2 separate regions of the Homo sapiens genome follow, and region 2 is linked to region 1. Evidence: fine-mapped expression QTL. Tissue or cell type: whole blood. Region 1 holds a variant in brackets; the other region holds the start of a gene. All regions are shown on one strand. Distances are from middle to middle.

Region 1 (10,616 bases):
TTTATCACTGCTTCTGTCGCCCCTTAAATTTTGCACCCCAGAACAGTGCCTCATTTGGTTCATTTCCTAGTGTTGGCCCTGCAAAGCAGCACACTAAGCATGCTAAGGCCTGGGAAAACTGAGGAAACTAAACAGACACACAAATTACCCTCCTGGAGCTCTTAGTTTAGCAAACGAGGCAGATAAAAGCAAGTAAACAAGCAGATAAATAGAAAAATTATAAATTACAATAAGTCAAATGGTAGGAGCATGCCACTGAGAAGGGTGATAACTTACTCAGATGAAATGGTCAGCAACAAGCAACACCTTCTCTAAATCTCCAAGCTTCAAAGCCCCCGTCATTTTCCCCAATAGATTCCTAGTGTGCATTAAAGGGTTAACTTAGCAGACTTACGGTGTTCACACCCTGCATGTTCCAAAGAAAGCACCTGACTGACTGCTGGGAGAGTAACTCTAAGCTCTTGCAGTATCCTCCCTAACTCAAGTGTCTTTGTATACCTGGGCACTTGGGCCAAACCAGGCCAGACAATCTATGTAACCATGTGATTATATCACGTTGACTTCTGGAGGGGCTGGTGACCAAGTAATTAAGGTCATTCCATAGGTAACTCCACACCTATGTGACTGACCTCCAATTAAAACCCTGAACACCAAGGCTCAGGTGAGTTTCCATGGTTGGCAACACTCGATACATGTTGTCACCCATCATTGGTGGGAGAATTAAGCATGTTTGTAAGATTCCACTGGGAGAGGACAACTGGAAGTCTCTCCTGGACCCTGCCCTATGCACCTTTTTCTTTGGCAGATTTTAATCTGAATCCTTTTGTTGTAATAAACCATAACCATGAGGATAACAGGTCTTCTGAGTTCTGGGAGTCCTTCTAGTAAAGAACTTGAAATCACTCATGGAACCTGTCAGTGGTCCTGCGGACCCACAATGTAGTGGTTCTGATCTATCACAGCACTCATCACAGTTCATGACTGTGTGTATTAGTCTGTTCTCACGCTGCTAATAAAGACATACTGGAGACTGGGTAGTTTATAAAGGAAAGAGGTTTAATTGACTCTCAGTTCTGCAGGGCTGGGAAGGCCTCAGGAAACTTACAATCATAGTGGAAGGGGACATAAACATGTCCTTCTTCACGGGGTGGCAGGACAAAGAAGTGCCAAGCCAAAGGGGGAAAAGCCCCTTATAAAACCATCAGATCTAGTGAGAACTCACTCACTATCACCAGAACAGCATGAGGGTAAATGCCCCTGTGATTAAATTACCTCCCACCAGGTCCCTCCCACGACACGTGGGGATTATGGGAACTACAATTGAAGATGAGATTTGAGTAGAGACACAGCCAAACAATATCAATGTGTGTGTGTGTGAGGTCATGTGACCATAGACTAGACTTGCAATGTCCAACACAGCTGCCACTGACCAAATGTGGATGCCTAAGTTTAAATTAATTTAAATGAGATAAAGTTAAGACTTCCTCAGTTGCACCAGGCACATTTCAGTTGCAGCAGTCACATTTGGTTTGTGGCTACCACATGGAATGATTCTATCACCCTGAAAGTTACACTGGACTACACTAGACTAGATGGTGAGGCTTCAAGGGCATAGGGACTCCTTGCGACTTATTCATATCTGCGTTTCCAAGACCTCACACACAGTGGACACTCAATAATTACCAGTGAAAACAAACAAAAATATATTAAAAGACTAAATAGTGGAAAGAGCTCTTTTCCCCGCCCTATCTCTAATGCCGTGTGCTCTTGAGCAAGCTACTTGGCCACTCTAGGCTTTAGTTTTCCCAGCTGCAAAGATGTGTGTGTACTCTAGGGGTTTAAAGGTCCCTTCTGGCCATGCATGGTGGCTCACGCCTATAATCCCAACACTCTGGGAGGCTGAAGCAGGTGGATCACGTGAGGTCAAGAATTTGAGACCACCCTGGCCAACATGGTGAAACCCCATCTCTATAAAAATACAAAAATTACCCAGGCATGGTGGCACATGCCTGTAGACCCAGCTTACTCAGGAGGCTGAGGCAGGAGAATGGCTTGAACCCGGGAGGTAGAGGTTTCAGTGAGCTGAGATCGTGCCTCTGCACTCCAGCCTCGGTGACAGAGCAAGACTCTGTCCCAAAAAACTAAATTAAAAAATAAAAATAAAAACAGGTCGGGTGCGGTGGCTCACACCTGTAATCCCAACACTTTGTGAGGCCAAGAGGGGCAGATCACCTGAGGTCAGGAGTTTGAGACCAGCCTGGCCAACATGGTGAAACCTTGTCTCTACTAAAAATACAAAAAAAAATAGTTGGGCGTGGTGGCAAGTGCCTGTAATCCCAGCTACTTGGGAGGCTGAGGCAGGAGAATCGCTTGAACCCAGAAGGGGGGGGTTGCAGTGAGCTGAGATCACACCACTGCACTCCAGCCTGGATGACAAGAGCGAGACTCCATCTCAAAAAAATAAAAATAAAGATAAAATAAATAAGTAATAATAATAATAAAAGTAAAGGTTTCTTCAGGTCATGATATTCAAGACCAGGATCATAACAGAAACCTTGTGGTCTGGTGCCCTTCTCCTTTCACTGTGTGCTAGGTATAGCCTGAGACGGAATGGACCAGCTGTCAAGGGAGCTGAACAAACAGTGAAGGAATTGAGAAACAATCACTGGGTTTGCCCCAGTTGAGGAACTCTTCAAACTGCAAGCTCCATGATGGCATAGATTTGTTTGCCTCTTTGCTCATGGTTGTGTCCACCTCGAGTTCTAGCACAGTGCCTGGCACAAAGTAAGTGCTCAATAAACATTTCTGGAATGAGTGATTGACCCTAAGCACTGAACTTGCAGAGTCCAGAGATTGGCTCAGGGAGCATGTCCTTTGTCACATGTGGCACAACTCTGTGGCACCAGCCCCTGGCAGGATTAGAGCCCTTCACTAATAAGCCAATGGAATCAGCTTGGACCCCACTTGGTGACTTTCTGCTGTCTTGCTGCCTCATGCTCCAGTCCCAAAATGACCTTCAAAACCTATCTCCATCGCTGCACTGCTCAAAATCCTTCAGTGGCTCTCTGCTCTTCCCAGACAAAATAAAGCAACGTTTTTGTTGCATGTGACAAGGCATGAACTATCTTCATTTCTTTTCCATTTGAGAGCTCATGTTTTGCAGCAGGAAATTTGTAGCCAACGTTGGTCTGATACAGTGAGGGTACAACTGCTCACTGATACAGTGAGGTTACCTGGCTTGCGTCCTACACTCATTGCTATGATTTGAATGTTTTGTCTTCTCCAAAATCATGTTGAAACTTAATCCCCAATGCAGCAGTTTTGGGAGGTGGGGCTCCACCCTCATGAATAGATTAATGCCACTATGAAAAGGGTTTGCTAAAGTGTATTCACTCTCTTCTGCTTGTCTGCCATGTGAGGACACAGAGTTCACCCCTCTCTTGCCCTTCCACCTTCTGCCATGTGAAGATGCAGTAAGAAGGCCCACACCAGGTACCAGCATATTGATCTTGGACTTTCCAGCCTCCAGAACTGTAAAAGGATACATTTCTGTTCTTTACAAATTGCTGGGTTTCAGGTATTCTGTTAGAGCAGCAGAAAACGAACTAAGACACTCAATCTCAAGTTCTTCCTTTTGCTCTCCAATCTGGGCCTCCAAATCCTCCATCCAGTGCCCACCAAGTCCCCCGGCTATCACGCCTTGGGCATTGTCTCCTTTGCTATGCATCATACACCTTGATATAGTTTGGATATTTGCCTCTCCCCTGAAAATCTCATGTTGAAATGTAATCCCCAATGTTGGAGGTGGAGCTAGTGGAAGGTGTTTATGTCATAGGGGTGGAAGCCTCATGAATGGCTTGGTGCCCTCCCCATGGTAATGAGTTACCACAAGATCTGGTTGTTTTAAAAGGGACTGACACCTCTTTCCCACTCTCACTTGCTCCATCTTGTGACATGCCTGCTCCCCCTTCACCTTCTGCCATAATTGGAAGCTTCCTGAGGTCCTCCCCAGAAGCAGATGCTGGCGCCATCCCTCCTGTATAGCCTCCAGAATTGTAAGCCAAAATAAACCTCCTTTGTTTATAAATTACGCAACCTTGGGTATTCCTTTATAGCAATGCAAAATGGACTAACACACACCTCTCATACTATTAATAGGTCATCCAAAGAGCTTCTCCCCTAGGAGATGGGGCACAAGTCCACATACTCAGCAGTCTCCTTGAGGCTGTTGGCTCATCCATCAACCTTCTGAACCTCTGTTTTCTCATTTGTACAAAGATCTGAAGTTATTTTCTGGATATCCCTTTCCAAGACCCTTCCAAACTGCTGACACTGCTCACACTTCTGTACCCTCACCCCACCCCTGGAAAATCTGTTCCAATCTTATTGAACTGCATGTAAACCCCCAAGCTCACCATCACCTTACCAACCTTCAGGCCTTTGTCCCTCTACTCCCTCAGCCCAGCACACCCTTTCCTTCCCCTTCCTCCAACTTTCAAGATTCCACTCAAAGACCAGCCCCCTAGGAAAACTTTCTTTCACATTCTCCATCCTCAGGTGGAACTTACCCTAGTCTCCTCTTCACCCCAGCCATTTTCCATGCACAAATTACCACCCTGTGGCATCCAGAGCACTTTCTTACACATGCTTGCTAATCCACGAGTCTCTGCCTTCCAGACGTCAATCAACACCCTGAGAGCAGAATCTTCAGTGTTCTGTCTTTGTAAAGCAAAGAGATAAAATCAGAACAGTTTGGGAGTTGGAGCCCAGTGGCTTCAGGTTGAATTCTGGCCCTAGCCCACACACATTCTGATCTTAGGAGAATCATGAATATCCCTGTGCTAGGTCATATTATTGGCCCCAGCTCTTTATTCCCTCCTTTGTCTGTGTTCTTTGCCATGTGACTTTGCAATTTATCCCACTAAAGGAGCAGAGCATATTTCCCTGCCCTTTGACTGTGGGTTTGGGCATAAGACTTGCTTTAGATAATAGAATGAGGAGTAAGTGACAGGATGCCTGTTTTAAAAGATGTGTTGCAGGCTTTAATCCATTCTCCTGCACTCCTGCCTTAAGAAGAACATTCTCAGGCCAGCCTTCTGCTCCCAGGAGGTTCAGAAGCATGTGGAGCTGAGCCACCTCAGCCGAGCTCCCCATGCAGAGCCCAGCCTTGACAAACCAGCCCTAAGCCAACTTGCAAATGTGTGAGCAAGAATAAGTGATGGCTGCTGTGAACCACTGGATTTGGGGGTGGTTTGTTACTCGGCAATAGTTGGCTGATACACTCTCTTCAACTCAGTGTCTTCATCTGAGGGATGATGATAAGTTCCTTGAGGGGCTATCATAGGATTAGATTACATTGTGAATAAAGTATAAAACTCAATGTCTGACTCATCGTAAGTGCTGACAAATGGCAGCTATTGGTCCCCCGAAAATTTCAACATAGATTTATGCTATGACCCAGAATGTCCACTTCTAGGTATACACACAAAAGAATTGGAAATAGTCATTCAAACAGATACTTGTACACAAATGTTCAGAGCAGTATTATTCATAATAGCTAAAAGGTGCAAATGACTCAAGTGTCCATTGACAGATAAATGGGTAAGTAAAATGTGATATATACATACGATTAAATATTATTAAGCCATAAAAAGAATGATGTCCTGGTATATGCTACATCATGGTTGAACCTTGAAAATATTACGCTAAGTGAAATAAGCCAGACACAAAAGATAAATACTGTATGATTCCACTTACATGAAATATCTAGAATAGGCAAATTTGCAGAGATAGAATGTAAATTGGAGGTTACCAGGGACTGGGGGGGGCGGTGGTAAGGAGGAATGAGAAATTGTTGCTTAATGGGTACAGAGTTTCTGTTTGGGGTGAAGATTTGGAAACAGATAGTGGTAAGGGTTGCACAACATCATGAATGTAATTGAAGCCACTATATTGTACACT[T/C]AAAAATGGTTAAAATGGTGACATTCCTGTTATATGTATCTTACCACATTTTAAAAATGGTACTTAGGTGTTCAAGACAATCCTGGATGACCCAGAAAGACACTGTCTTTATAAAAGATAAAAAATGAAAAAAAAATAGCCAGGTATAGAGGTTTGCCCCTGTAGTCCTGACTACTTGGGAGGCTGAGGTGGGAGGATTGCTTGAGCCTGGGAGTTCCAGCCTGCAGTAAGCCATAATTGCACCACTGCACTCCAGCCTGGGTGACGGAGTGAGACCCTGACTCAAAAGAAAAAGGCAGTTATTGTATTTATCTGTTCAGCAACTGTACATAGTAAATGCTGAGTAAAAGTCTGTTGAATATTGCTGGAATAAAGGAGATGACCATTAGATGGATAGATGCACAAATAACCAAAGAGATAAATAAGTGAATCAGTTAATGGTGAGCAAGTGAAGAAACCATATAAGCTCTTTACCGTGGCCACCTATTTAGAAGATGTACGACAACCAGGACATGGGACCCTACAGTCTCATGTAGAATTAACTATATTGAGAGCTATAAGTATAAAAATCACACAAAGTAGAAAAGGCAACCTAGGGGATCCATGCAGACCTGCAGTCTCAGGAGGGCAGAAAGCAGGTCTGGGATGATAGGGCACAAGGACAGTGGCGCAGCAGGGGACACCAGAGGCTCCAGCAGTGGAAAGAAACACATGGTTGCTACAATGAGTAGCAACTCCGGCTGGTGGAAATGAGAGCGGGCTGCAGATACAGGGCTGCTACCTGCAGGGTAATATGTGTTATCGGGTTGATCTTGCCCCTCGGGGAGCCTGGGGAAAACCCAGGTTCTAGAAACCAGAAACAGTGATGATGAATAGAAACCCTTGCACAAGCACAACACTTTAAAATGTAGACACCACTTTCCCGAGGATCTGCTGACTTAGTCCTCACAACTACCCTGTGAAGGTTTATCTTGTTATTATTTCTAATAGGCGAAGAATATAAGGCTCAGATGGTTGACGGAATAGGTCCAAGGTTACCTAGCGCACAAGAGGCAGGGAGCTACCTCCCAGGGACTGGCTTTATTGGCTCCATTGAGAATTCCATTGGCCCCATTGAGAACTTCATCAGCCCCATTGCTGCCCAGTGAGCGCACACAAGGCAGGGGTGGAACTTGAACCCAGGTCACTTCACCCCCATATCCTACGCTCCTTCAAACACACCCTAGGAGAAAACCTTCCAGTGGTGCTAGGGTTTCAATGTGTGTCTCCTCCAAAACTCGTGTTGAAATTTAACTGCTGTTGGGAACAGTAGTGAGAGATGGGACCTTTGGGAGGTGGATGGGTCATGAGGGTTCTGCCCTCATGAGTTGGATTGATGCCATTATAAAGGATGACTTTGGCTCCCTTTTGCCTCTTTTTTGCCTTCTGCCATGTGAAGATGAAGTGTTTTGTTCCCCACGTTTGGAGGATGCAGCATTCCAGGCACCATCTTGGAATCAGAATCTCCAAGCCTGCCAGCACCTTGATGTTGTCCTCCCAGCCTCCAGAGCTGTGAGCAATAAGTTTCTGCATGTAAATTACTTAGTCTCAGGTATTCTCTGATAGCAGCTCAAACAGACTAAGACAAGTGGGGAAAAGCAGAAATCTCTCCCCTGGTGTGTTGATCTTGGATTTGAATCACAGCTTTTGTTACTGGCTAGTTCTCGAATTTGGGGAAACTCACTTGAATCTACGTTCTGATCTGTAGAATGGTAATAAATGAATCTGCATTATCACATTGTCCTAAGGACGCAAGGTAATGCATGCAAGTGTTTAGTATAGCATCCATCCCATAACAGGAGCTCAGTGCAGTCATGGTCACCTTTATTTATCATCTCTTCCCTCTGTTCCTTTTCCCCCTCACCCTCCCCTCTTTACTCCCCTTCTTCCATCTCTTCCTGGATTCTCTCTCTCATCTCTCATTGTTCTCTTGTCTCCTCAGGGAACACATCCTCCCCATAAACCCACACTTCCCACATTCCTCCATCTGGCCCCTCAAAAACCCACAGGTCCCTGTCCTAGGGAATAGCAGGTAAATGTGAAGTGTTGAGTAACTCCTTTCCACAGGTCTGGGCCCCCTGGCCTGTCCATCCCCGCCATGTTCCTCTGCTCCACAGGTTCCATGCCCTTGGTCACACTGCCTTGTATCTTACATTCCTGACTTTATATCTACTTTGAATAATAACTCTCCCCACCTTGGTGAGGCCACAAATTATCACTAATCTCCAGGCGAGATTAAATGTTGTTAACATTTGGTTTCTCGCGTAGATTGGAGGATTCCAGGCTAAGGGGAAATGGATGGAGGAGGGCTGAGGTGCATGCTGATACCCAAGCCACAGGCAGGCTCTGCAGGAGAAACCAGCACAGCAGAGCGGGAGACACAGGAGCAGGCTCTGGAGCCCGGCCACCTGGAATGAGTCGCAGCCATGCCCCTTCTCATTCGTGTGACCTCAGAAAGGGGCATCACCTCTCTGGGCCTTAATCTTTTCATCCACTAAATGGGATAATTATAGAACCAGATGAGAGAATGAGCATGGAGCCTGCACAGAAGGAGAGCTTTAAGCAATTATGAGAATGAAGGGAAGCGTCATTTCTCAAAGTCCATGGACTTGGGCCTGAGCCCCACGCATACTTCTTCTCCAAGCCCTACACTCTCCAGAGTTATGCATTTGGGGGAGCAGATAGAGAGTGCTGAGCAATTCCTCCAGGGGTACAGGGCTCTCTGGACCCAGCTGTTTGGACACATCTGGGATGGCCATTCCCCCTCTCGCATCCCACCAACCCCAGTCTCCCAAGCTAGGCCCTGCTGGGTCCCAGGCCCACCCTTTGGCAGCCAAGTAGAGCTGCCCCTCAATGAAATGTGATGAATGGTGGCCCTGAGAGCCATCAGCTTCCCAACTTAACTGACATCCCACTGCTTCCTTCTTTAGGAATTCCGATTTTCCCTTCACAGACTATCATAAAACTATGCTAGAAGGTCTCCTTCCAACACCCACAGAGATGATTCACCCAAAATGTTCATGAGCAAACATTGCAGAGGAACAACCCCTAAGGGGAAAGTTCTCCCAAAGACCTACACATTATTCTTCACTCAGTGCTTCATCTCTCTAGAATCCTGAAATTTTGGAGACAAAAGAAACCCTGAAGTTCCTCTGCTCCGCAATGTAGGCGAGTGAACCAGGACAGGGCATTCACAGCAGGGAACATTTATTGAGCACTCTCTGTGTACCGTGCACTGCACCAGCCAACTCAGGAGCATCATCTCATTTCATCCTCACGCAATCTGTGAGGCAGGGCTGCTGCTAATCCCATGGCACTGGAGGAAACTGAAGCTCAAGGTGGTGGATCCACTCCCACCTATGGGAAAATCCAGAGTCACACAGCTACAAGAAGAGCCCAAACCTGCCTGGCTTCAAAACAGGTGGTGAGCTCCCCATTGCTGGAGGTATCCAAGAGTCTGCCGAGGGACTTCAAGTATTCAGGAAGGGGGAGACCCCAAGATCAATGCCCCGTGGATAGTCTCCATCTTCAACAGGGTTTCTCAATATTGGTGCTATTGAGATTGTGAACTGGATAATTCATTGCTGTAGAGAAGATTGTCCTGTGCATTGTGGGATGTGGAGCAGCATCCCTGGTCTCTGCCCAGCAGACGCTGGTAGCACCTCCTCAATCACGGCAACCAAAAACATCTCAAGACATGGCCAAAGGTCCCCCTGGGGCAAGGGGGACAAAATCACCATATGAGAAGCACTGTTCTACAAGAATTTTTGAAAAAGCCAGCAGACATCCATGGAGACCAGCGTTGACAATGCAGGGAGAAGTTTTACACCCCTGCGGTACCTTCTTGGGAGACAGTTGTGCACTGCAGCAGCCCTTATATCATGGCAGAGATGCTGCATATCTGCTCCTCTGTCAGCATCCCAAAGGACCAGGAGGAATACTCGGGCACATTTAGAAAAGAAAGAGAGAGGAGACCCATGACCCAAAAATACGACATTGGAATTGAGGCACAATTTGACCTAAATGCAATAAAATTGTGCCATTAGTTCCAGAGCAGCAAGCACTACCCAACCCACTGATAACTCCGAGCTGCCACTAGACCTCAGTAAGCCTCAATATATTTTAGCCTTGATTTAAAATGGAAGAATCTGCAGGTCAGACCTGAAAAGATCCTTAGAAAGTAGAGATCTGCTCTCTGGTCCTGTGTTGTGAGTGTGTCGTGAGTGTGTCGTGAGTGTGTCGTGAGTGTGTCGTGAGTGTGTTGTGCGGTGGGGGCGGGGGTGCTAGCCATCTCTGTCGGGCATCTTCTTTTGGTGCTCCCCGCAACCCCCACATTGCCTCTCCACCCTTCTCCCCATGTGGACTTCAATGGACTGTCTTGCCCTCCGCCTTCCGATTTGGTTCTGCCAACTGGAGGCCCAGAAGGAAATCAGGGGAAGGGGAGATGGAGTCAGCGTACTTATTCCCCCTGCTCCTGCCTGCCAGGGTCTCTGAGGATTGGCTGCATCCCTTCACTGAAGGTCTCAGCCAAGGATCTTGTCTACCTCGTCACCTTCTCCCCTTAACTCTTTTTTTTTTTTTTTTTTTTCTCTGAGACGGAGTCTCGCTCTGTCACA
Region 2 (9,838 bases), 54 kb after region 1:
AAAATGCACCCAAGTTCCCAAAGAGAGATAGGCAATCAACTTGCAATGTCTGTCAAGGATGCTGAAGGGAAGAGTGGCGATGTGTGTGGCTTATATTTGCCAGTCCTTCACGATCACACACTAAACTCTATCTTTTTCTCTGTCACCAAGGAACTCTTTGACTCCCCAGTGAAGTATAAGATCCCTGGCAGGCCATGCGCGGTGGCTCAAGCCTGTAAACCCAGCACTTTGGGAGGCCGAGGCGGGCAGATCACGAGGTCAGGAGATCGAGACCATCCTGGCTAACACGGTGAAACCCCGTCTCTACTAAAAATACAAAAAATTAGCCGGGCGTGGTGGTGGGTGCCTGTAGTCCCAGCTACTCAGGAGGCTGAGGCAGGAGAATGGCGTGAACCCAGGAGGCAGAGCTTACAGTGAGCCGAGACCGCGCCACTGCACCCCAGTCTGGGCAACAGAGCAAGACTCCATCTCAAAAAAAAAATAATAATAAAATAAACAAATTCCCTGGCAATAAGAACCTGGATTTCTGGAAGCACTGCCCTAGGCATAAAGAAGTGTTATTTTTTAAAAATACCACCAGGCACAGTGGTGCACGCCTGCAGTCCCAGCTACTCAAGAGGCTGAAGCAAGAGGATCGCTTGAGACCAGGAGATCAAAGCCAGCCTGGGCAACATAGCAAGACCTCATCTCTAAAAAAAAGAAAAGAAAAATAAATACCAATGGTGATAATGGTTGCACAACAATGTGAATGATACCACCAAGATGTTCACTTAGAAATTATTATGGTGGTGAAGTTTTATGTTATGATTATTTTACCAAAATTAAAAAATAAAATACCCTATTATATTGACTTCTAGGGTCACTCTTGAGGAAAGGCTGACTCACCGAGAGAGCCCACCCCTGCTCCTTGAGAATGCCACTGGCTGCCCCCTCTCCCCTAAACAGCACGTCCCTTCTGCTTCATAGGCCACAGTCATGTTTCCAGCGTGAATTGATTTTTAATAGCAAAATGGCATTTTACACAGAAGCAGCTACATTCATGGATGAAAACAAAAATCCAAGTGACGCTCCTTTGTTGAATCCATGTAAAAATCTGATTTTTAATCTACAGAGAAATTTCTACCCACACATTCGGTATCCCCTGGGGGTAATGACATGGAAAACAAACATCTTTTCTGGTCTGTTAAAGTAAAACAATGGGTCCCTGGATAGACTCTCAAGAGGGCCTTTGATGGAATGGAACCAGTCCCCCCACCCCGAAAGCATCCCCCCAGCTCAACATGTCACCATTTACACCAGCACAGCCCTCACATTGGGTCCACAGCACAACCTATTAAGAAAGGATTATAACACCTGTTCGGATTGGGAGGCCAATTCCTCAGCTCTAAGATCCTGCTCATAGCAAGCTTGATGTTCAGTAGACTCCAAAGCAGACTGAATGAGGGAGGGGTCGAAGAGAATGTGCCTGCTTGGGCTCAGCCTCCTCTAATATTGTCAAGATGCACACACACTCTTAGAATCTCACAACCATCGCCAATCTCTATGTTGGCCTAGTCCCAATCCTTCTGCCTCTGGGAACAAAAGGTTCATTACCCACCAAGGCATATTTTTCCCTCTCTGGGACCAGGATCAGCTCTTGCAAGCTTACTCCACACTTGTATCTGCCCCTTGCAGCCATGCATGACAAATGGGCTCCCTCCCCAATGGAATTATCTTATAGACTTGCAGCCTATGACTGTGTTTCCCCTGATCTTCTCCAGGGACTTCCCACCACCATGGGATGACATGTTTTCAAGATTGCTCCCCTTCCGAGCCTTTATTTTCACCTTGGTCCTCTTTACTTTCCAGTCATTGCAGAGATACTTCCAACTGGGGTAGACATGTATGGATTCTGTTTATCAAAAGATGGACCAAAGGGTCTTCCTAGTTTCAAAAAGTTCTGCTCAGTTGTCTAAAATGTGGCCAGAGGCCATTGCAAACTCCTCTGAGTTCCACCTGGGCTGGAAAAGCCAAATGGCCAGCCTAAAACTCAAATCCACTAACTCCCTTTCTCAGATCATATCCGTCGCTCCCCAAGGCCTAAGGATAAAATCTAAACTTCTTGGCAACCAGACCCGGCACCATGTCCATGTCTCCTATCTCTTGCTACATTCCACATGAACCTTCCAGAACCTCTTTGGATCCTCTCTGATCCCCAGAAACTGGTGTCCACCACTCTCGCTGCCCGGAACTCATCCCCACCCACACTCCACCCAGCCACAGCTCAGCTTAGATGCCTCCCTCTCCAGAAAGCCACCACAGGGTGGATTAGGTGTCTCTCTGTCCCCATTCCACCCCCCTGCACCCAACACACTAGAATTAAAGCTCCTGAAGACCAAATGGTGTTTAACTACCACTACATCCCCAATGCCTGGCACACGCCTGGCACAGAGTAGGTGCACATCAATCTTGTCTGTCTCCTTGGTGCTCCCACAGACCCCTGACCAATCATAACACCCATCTCACTGAATCACTATCTACTTCACCAACTCTCCCACTAGGCTATAAAAGCACCATGACGAAAAAGCCCAGGTGCAGGTCCCAGCGCCCAGAGCAGTGCCTGGCACATAGTAGATCCTTAGCAGCATCAAGTCTTTGCAGTTAAACAAAGAGGAGTTTCAGGAATAGGAGGTGTGAGCTTCCTGCTTTGAGTGAAATGGAGCAAGGCAGCCACTAGAGGATGGCAGGCAGGCACTTCCGGGTGTAGACTACCCCATCCAAGGTCCCTGCCAGCAGCCAAGGCATGTTCTCAAAGCTCTTTCTAAGACATCTTTTCTCTCTTGTGCCCTCTGCAGCTCAGGCCTCTGGATCACCCTTCACCCCCACTGCCAACTACAATTGGTTAGCTCTGAGTCCACAGTTGCCAGAGAAAAGGGCTCTCAGCACCAGACTAGCATTCAACGACCCAAGCAACCTGCCTCTAAGGTCTGTAAGCCAGCCTTTGACCTGTCCCTAAACTGATCCAATCCTCCAGGCCCTGCCTTGAACTGTCTTCTCCTGCAGACTCTGACTACCAGACTGAGTCAGCAAAACCTTGAACTAGTGCCACCTTTTACCTGCACCTGGAATCCCTTGCGTATGCTCCCTGCCCCTCTACTCCCAAAGGACGTTCCCTCAGTCTAAAGAGATCAAAAGTCCCTTCCAGAAAAACTCCCGTTTCCTCGGTGCAGCTAAATTGCACAGAAGAGTTTATGCTAGAAGAGCTAAAAGTTAGAACAGGAAGCTCAGATAATTTATACTACTAACATGTAAATGACTGACGGAGTTATAACCCTTCTGAATACTCTGATCTAAAGCTTTATGTCCTAGAACTTCCAAAACACAAAGTCCCCAAAATGAAGACTCTAGGCCCTGGCCTGGGGAAGGGTGACTCTATACAAAATGGCATATGCTCTGTAGACACCAGACAGGTATTTTAAGGTTTATAAGAGCTGCATCTACTTGTGCAAACTACTGTAGCTATAAGGCTATATTTTTTTAAGAACTGAAACCAAATGCAGACTATGAGGAGTGAAGATATGCCCAATGGCCAAAACCTTGCAAGACTGGCTATACTTCTGACCCCACCTTGGTGGGTACCACTGCTCCATCAGGCCTGGTCCACACCAGAGCCCTGGCACCTCCTTTAGAAAACTACCATCTTTACCGACTTCTGATTGTTCTGACTCAGAGCAGCCACCACGCCCAAAATTGTTAGCTATGCTTTTCCCTGTGTTAGTCAAGTTCAAACCTGTGTTAGCCAAGTTCAAACCTGTGTTAGCCAAGTTCAAAGCTGTGTTAGCCCCTTCCCAGCCATGCCGACATCCAAGCTGTTAACAGTAACGAGGAATGTTAGACCTGTTGTTAGTCAGAAAAAAATCCACAAACCATTAGTTTCTGCTGAAAGGAACAGACCAGGAAGGCAGGAGTTAGTCAAGGTGAAGGAAAGGTTAATTAAGAACCGGTCAGGGCCAGGCCAGGAGCCTGGAACCCCCAGACAGGGCCAGGTTGGTTGTTAGTGGTCAGCCCCTGGGGCAGTCAGGGTGAGGCAGGGATTAGCTGGGTGAGAGCAAGAGTTAGCGCAAGGGAGCCAGAGATTAGCCCAAAGAAACCAAGGTGCCTACTGGAGGTGAGGCATGAAATCACCCCCAGGTGTGGCCCCGGCTTAGCGGCTGGCGGGCTCTGGGGGAGGCTGGCTGAGGCAGTGACGTCCGTGGGAACAGAGAGCCAGAGATGCATTCCTGGCCGGCCTGAGCATCTGCGGGAACCCTGTGAGCCCCTGAGGTTCACTTCTTGCTCCCCACTTCTCTCTCCTGCAAACTCCGAGCCCGGGGTAAAGCTGCTTCCCCTCCCCACACCCCTTTTCAACCCGACAACTAACGCCCTCTAGCTTCCGGGAATGGGACGGATCTTTCCCAAGGACTTCCGGTCACGGCCCCACGTCTACTTACGGTGGGGGAAACCGGCCTCTCTCGGCTCCAGAGAGGGGAGACGGCTCTCTAGCTGACTTCCTGTGTGGGAAAGAGTCCTCTCACTGACTTCCGGTGTCAGAAATGTCCCTCTTTCCGGCCTTCAAATATGAGAAATGTTTCTCTGGCCGACTTCCTGTGTACTAAATACTCCACTCAGTGGTTTTTAGCGTAGGAAAGACCCGCTTCATTGACTTCCGGTGTAAGAAAGGCTCCGCTTTCTGACTTCCGGTGTGGGACACGCCCCTCTGCTAATTTCCGGTGAGGGGCACGCCCCCTCCTGCCTTCCTCGTGGGATACGCCCCCCTCGTGACTTCCTGTGCAGGACAGCTTCTATCCCCGTCACTTAACAATGGAGAGGATTCTTCCCCAGCTTCCTTCCAGAGGACACAAAAGCTCAGAGCTCCACAGTCTAGAGTCTAGACCAACAGGCCTCCACACTCACGTCCCAGAGATTTCCCTGGTCCCACCTACTCCCAGTGGCAACCAGACTTCTGCACATAGGAGAGATGTCATACTCAGAGTCCAGCCTCCCACATCCACAGGACCACCTCTTCCTCCTCTGAGTCTTGTTAATAGGGCCATCCCCTGCCTTAGACCTGGCCCAGTGGACTCTGATCTTACAGCCAATATGGGGCAGCAAAGTGGGACATCTGTCTACAGGGCCAGTAGCCCCAGGTCATCTGCTTGCCAAAAGGAGGGGGACCAGCCCCCGGGGGGAGCCCAGAGCTCGGCAGGGCTGGGGTTAGTAAGAAGAGAAAACAGGGTTAGTAGGGGCTGGGTTAGTAAGTCAGAGCACAGCACCAGCGGACAGGGCACCTCAGCAGACACACACAGGAGTCGCTAAGAGAAAAGGAAGAACGCACGCAGGTCCGTTAGTTTGTTAAGGGATGATCGGGGTGCAGTTGAGGCACCCCAGGGGTTAGACGGGTTAGTAATCGAACAAAAGAGCTGCCTACAGAAAAGAAAGCTGAGACGGAGGAAGAATGTGGGGAAGTGACATGGATTCAAAGCCAAGTGTCTTGCCCCAGGCAGAAGGATCTGTGTGCAGAACACCCAGAGAGGCCAGGGCCTAGGCAGCAGACGTGTTCAACCAGGTTTGAGGGGCCTTCCTCCATCCTCATACTTTTTTTTTTTTTAGGTGTCTGCCATGTGCTGAGACCCTTATATTGACGGGAATCCTCACTGCAACCTGTAAGGTATCAGAACTCGCATTCTACCACTGAGGAAACTGAGGTTGAGAGAAGTGAGGTGACTTACTCAAACTCACTCAACAGGAAGTGGCAGAGTTGGTGAGTCTTATTTGCATTCTCTGTCCTGGAACGTGGGTCTGCACAAAGATCCCAGCCCATAGGCAGAGCCTTCTGGAGCCTTGGCTGCCCCCATATCCCAGCCCCTTGAAAGGCCCATGAGCTGCACAGTTAGTAGGATCTGGCTGCGGGGGGGTGGTTAGTAGGGCATGCTCGGGCCTGGTTAGTGGGTTAGTTGGTTGGCAGAAGGCCAGGCACCTCGTCACACGCCACAGCGTCCCGGCTGAGCCCTGGGTTAGTAGGTTAATCACACCATGCAACACTGCCCCGGCCCCTCCAGCTGCAGCTTCAGAGGCCTCCCGCCCCCACCAGCCAGGGAGTGGGGCCTGACCAGGGCAGGGGGTCTAACTCTAAGCCCCCCAGCCCCATCAAAATCAACCCTAACCACATGGACCCTGCCCAAAAGCATGTTGCTTCCCTATTTATTGGCTGTGGGTCTCAGAGCACCCCCTGCAAATATTTCAGCTCCCCTGAAAATGGACCCTACTTGTCCTAGACAGAAACCCCCTGCCTGGTTCTGGTCAGCCCCTTCCCAGAGGGCTGGATCCTGTTACACTCTGACAGACACACGCACACCCGCATCTCTCCGCAAAAGATCTGACAACCGTGCTTAGTAGACATCTCTTCCATCACCGACTGTCAGGCCTCTAGTTTCTCCAACTATTGGCCTGCCCTCCCACCATTAGAAAAAAAAAAAACGCATCAAGCTGGCCTGGCTCCTGGAACCAAGTTGAGACTCCCCCACGCCCACCCGGTCTGCTTCCTTTTCAGCCAATGCTACAAAGCACCTAAGTGTACCCTAATTATGCCATCTTCTATCACTGCTGTACTTTTCCCATAGAAACCCCAGCCTAGCATCTCCCACAGTTCTAAACGATGTTCCATGAGAAAAAGATTCTACGGCCATAAAAGTCAAGGAACACTTCATCCTATGCCCTGTCCCTGAGTATTTGAAATTGCCATTAGCATTTTAAAGGTTCTGATAAGTCCTGCACTACTTCAGTAGTGCAGCGGAATTTGAATTAGAACCTGCTTTTTTTTTTTTTTTTTTTTTTTTAAGGAGCAATGACATTTCCTAGAAGTTACTTTAAGAATTTCCCTAGAGGGTCGGGTATCATCTCAGCCAGATCTTTCTCATCCTTCAAGGCCCTGTTTGGTACAGCTTGCTAGGAAGCTGTTCCAGACTGCAGCAGCCCTCTCTGGGGTCTCTCTACCACTTCCCAGGCACTCAGAACTTGTGCCTCAGTAGACTGTTTTGTGGCACTGTCCCATTCTCTGATTCTCCATGTGAGCTGGTTTTATCCCATCCAGCATGGCTGTGAAATCCTAAAGGTTCAAACCCCAGCCACTCTTCACCTATATTTCCCCCAAATGGCTAGCACGGGAAAGGGCCCAAAGTAGGTGCTCAGTGCTGATGAGAGAGTAGAATTTAAATACCCCAGGAAGCATTGTGAGTTACTACGGAGGCCATGAAATGCTGCCACCTCCCCAAGCTGATTAAAGAGTGATACTAGGAAAATAGGTAGGGAAGGGCTAATCAGAAATGCCTCTGGTTCAGAAGATGCTGAGTTTTAAAGTCCAGAGAGCCAAAAAAAAAAAAAAATAGATAAACCCTAAGTCTATACTCCCAGATGGATGGGAGCATTTGCTGAGCACCTACTGGGAGTCAGGCACTGTGCTAGGCACACAATCTCACTGAATTCTCCCTGCACCTGACAGGCAAGCACATTCCTTCCATTTCACAGAGCATCGGAGGCTCAGAGGTGAAGTAACTTGCCCAGGGTTGTAGCCCAGGCCCTTCTCAGGACACGGCTCTCCCAGGGCCTCCGCCTCCCTGCACTGAGCCCTGCCAGTTCCATATGTCCTCCGAAGCACTCCTGAGCCACCCCAGCATGGTACCTGCCACTCTCCGTGTCTGCTTCCCATACCTCTCTGCTCCTCCTCCCCATCCCTGGGTGGGGGCGGGAATTCTGAAGGGGAGAAGGCTCTGACTTTCCATGTTTGCGGTGACCACCCTGTTAAGAACTGAATGGTGTCCCCTCCCCCAAATGCATATGTTGAAGCAGTAGCCTGCTATGTGACTGTTTTTGGAGATGGGACCTTTAAGGGGTTAAGGTTAAATGAGGTCATAGGTTTAAGCCCTAATATGGTGATATTAGTGTCTTTATAAGAAGAGGAGGAGACACCAGAGCCTGCTCATGCTCTCTGTCCCTCTCCACAGAGAAAAGGCCATGTGAGGACATAGTGAGAAGGTGCCACCTGCAAGCCAAGGAGAGAGGCCTCACCAGAAACCAAGTCTTAACACCTTGATCTGGACTTTCCAGCCTCCAGAACTGGCAGAAAATAAATTCCTGATGTTTAAGCCATCCAGTCTGGCATGGTGCTGTGGCAGCCCAAGCTGATGAATAGTACACACCACTCCGCATTCTGGGAAAAAGGACATCTGGCTTTTAAACTTGCCTAAGGGAGGCCACAAGCTGCTCTCTTGCAAACGCTGGGACTGTCTCCTCTGGAGGGAGCTGGAATTGCAGATTGTGGGGCCTGTCCTGCCACCTTCTGTTCCCCAAGAACAGAATCCAGGAGCAGTGCAACTAGAAGCAGCGATCTGATTGGAGAAGAGTGTCCTGAGACTGGGCTAAGGTGACCCCTTAAGCCTTTGGGTAAGACTGGTTCCCTTTGGATGGCAGGAAAAAAAACCCAGGGCCACCTGTCTCTTTCTAGTGAATTTCCCTAGCCTAAATCTTATCTCTTAAAGACCCTCTCTTTTCAGGATGGTGCACTCTCAGCCCCTCTGGCTGCCCCTCCCAGAGTTCAACAGCACAGGGGGAAGGCTCCAGCTCCTCCCAGATCCTGACTGTCTCCTCTTTGTAACCATCAGGGAGAGGAAAAGCATGGAAAAGCCCCACCAAGGAAGTCCCCCACAAAATGACAATTACGCACTGAGCAAATGGAGACAAAGGACTCCAGCCAGCGGCACCCGAGGAGCTGCATCTGCCCTCTGCCTGACAGCCCCTCCCCGACTCCCATCCTTGTTCCTGTCCCCATCCTGTAGGGTCCTTTGAGACCCAGCCTTGGGGAAAGTGTGGTCAGTGGGGACTTGGCCCAGGCCAGGCTCTGTCTGGTCACCGGCAGAAACGCGAGGAGGAATCAAGTTCACATGGGGCAGGAAAGGGCCCCCAGACCCAGACAATAGGGCCCAGCAGGCAGGGCCCGAGCAGGTGAGGAGGGAGTAGTGGGCTGCCAGGCCTCCCTCATACCCCTGGAGCTGTCCTCCAGAGCCAGATCAGTCATCTGCTGAGCATCAACCAGGAAGAGTTCCTATCCATGGGAGGCTCCATCCCAACAGGTGTGAAGAGGATGAGATCTTCAGGGAGTCACCCAGCGGGCTAGAAAACCACCGGAGTCTGACCGCTAAGTCACTGTGGCCAGAATCCAAGGTCACCCGAGGTCCAAAGAGAAGTCCAGGCCAGGAGTCCTGGAGATGCGGCCCAGATGGAGCCACCTGGGGGAGAAGACAGCGAGTGAGGATGAGGCCACAGCCTCCATCCCCAACTTCCCACATCCCCCCAGCCTAATTCTGCATCTGAGGGGACTCATGTTCAGAGATCCCCCCAGTCTCTCATGCCCCCAGCACACACACAGGGTGGAAGTGAGGGTTTTGGACATGAAACATTTTTAGAAGAAACTTAGGCCAGGCACAGTGACTCCCACCTGTAATCCCAGCACTTTGGGAGGCTGAGGAAGGAGGATCACTTGAGCCCAGGAGTTCGAGACCAGCCTGGGCAACATAATGAGACTCTGTCTCTACAAAAAATAAGCCAGGCATGGTAGCATGCACCTGTAGTCCCAGCTACCCAGGAGGCTGAGGTGGGAGGATGTATTGAGCCCTGGAGTTCAAGGCTGCAGTGAGCCGTGATCATAACACTGTACTCTAGCCTGGGCAACAGAGTGAGACCCTGTCTCTGAGAAAAAGGAAAAAAAAGTTGTCTAAAAAGAGGAAGCAATGAAAGCTGAGAATACCCACCAGGCAGGGTTAGCTCA

Evidence for each region. PIP is the estimated chance that this variant, and not a neighbour inherited with it, causes the effect.
Region 2: MIATNB starts here. The variant in region 1 is fine-mapped to the expression of MIATNB in whole blood (Lepik 2017, PIP 0.95).

The regions. Positions count from the first base shown.
Region 1 is chr22:26,720,747-26,731,362 of GRCh38, reverse strand. All of the region lies in intron 2 of MIATNB (MIAT neighbor), which reads right to left. Among named protein-coding and RNA genes, the nearest start is that of MIATNB, 53 kb to the right of the region's middle. The variant T/C (reference allele first, on the strand shown) is at 5,962.
Region 2 is chr22:26,667,619-26,677,456 of GRCh38, reverse strand. It overlaps MIATNB (MIAT neighbor), which reads right to left and starts at 4,614. Exons shown (of 6, transcript NR_110543.1): 1 at 4,470-4,614. It overlaps MIAT (myocardial infarction associated transcript), which reads right to left. Exons shown (of 5, transcript NR_033320.3): 5 at 979-9,299. RefSeq lists enhancers at 8,298-8,880, 8,881-9,464.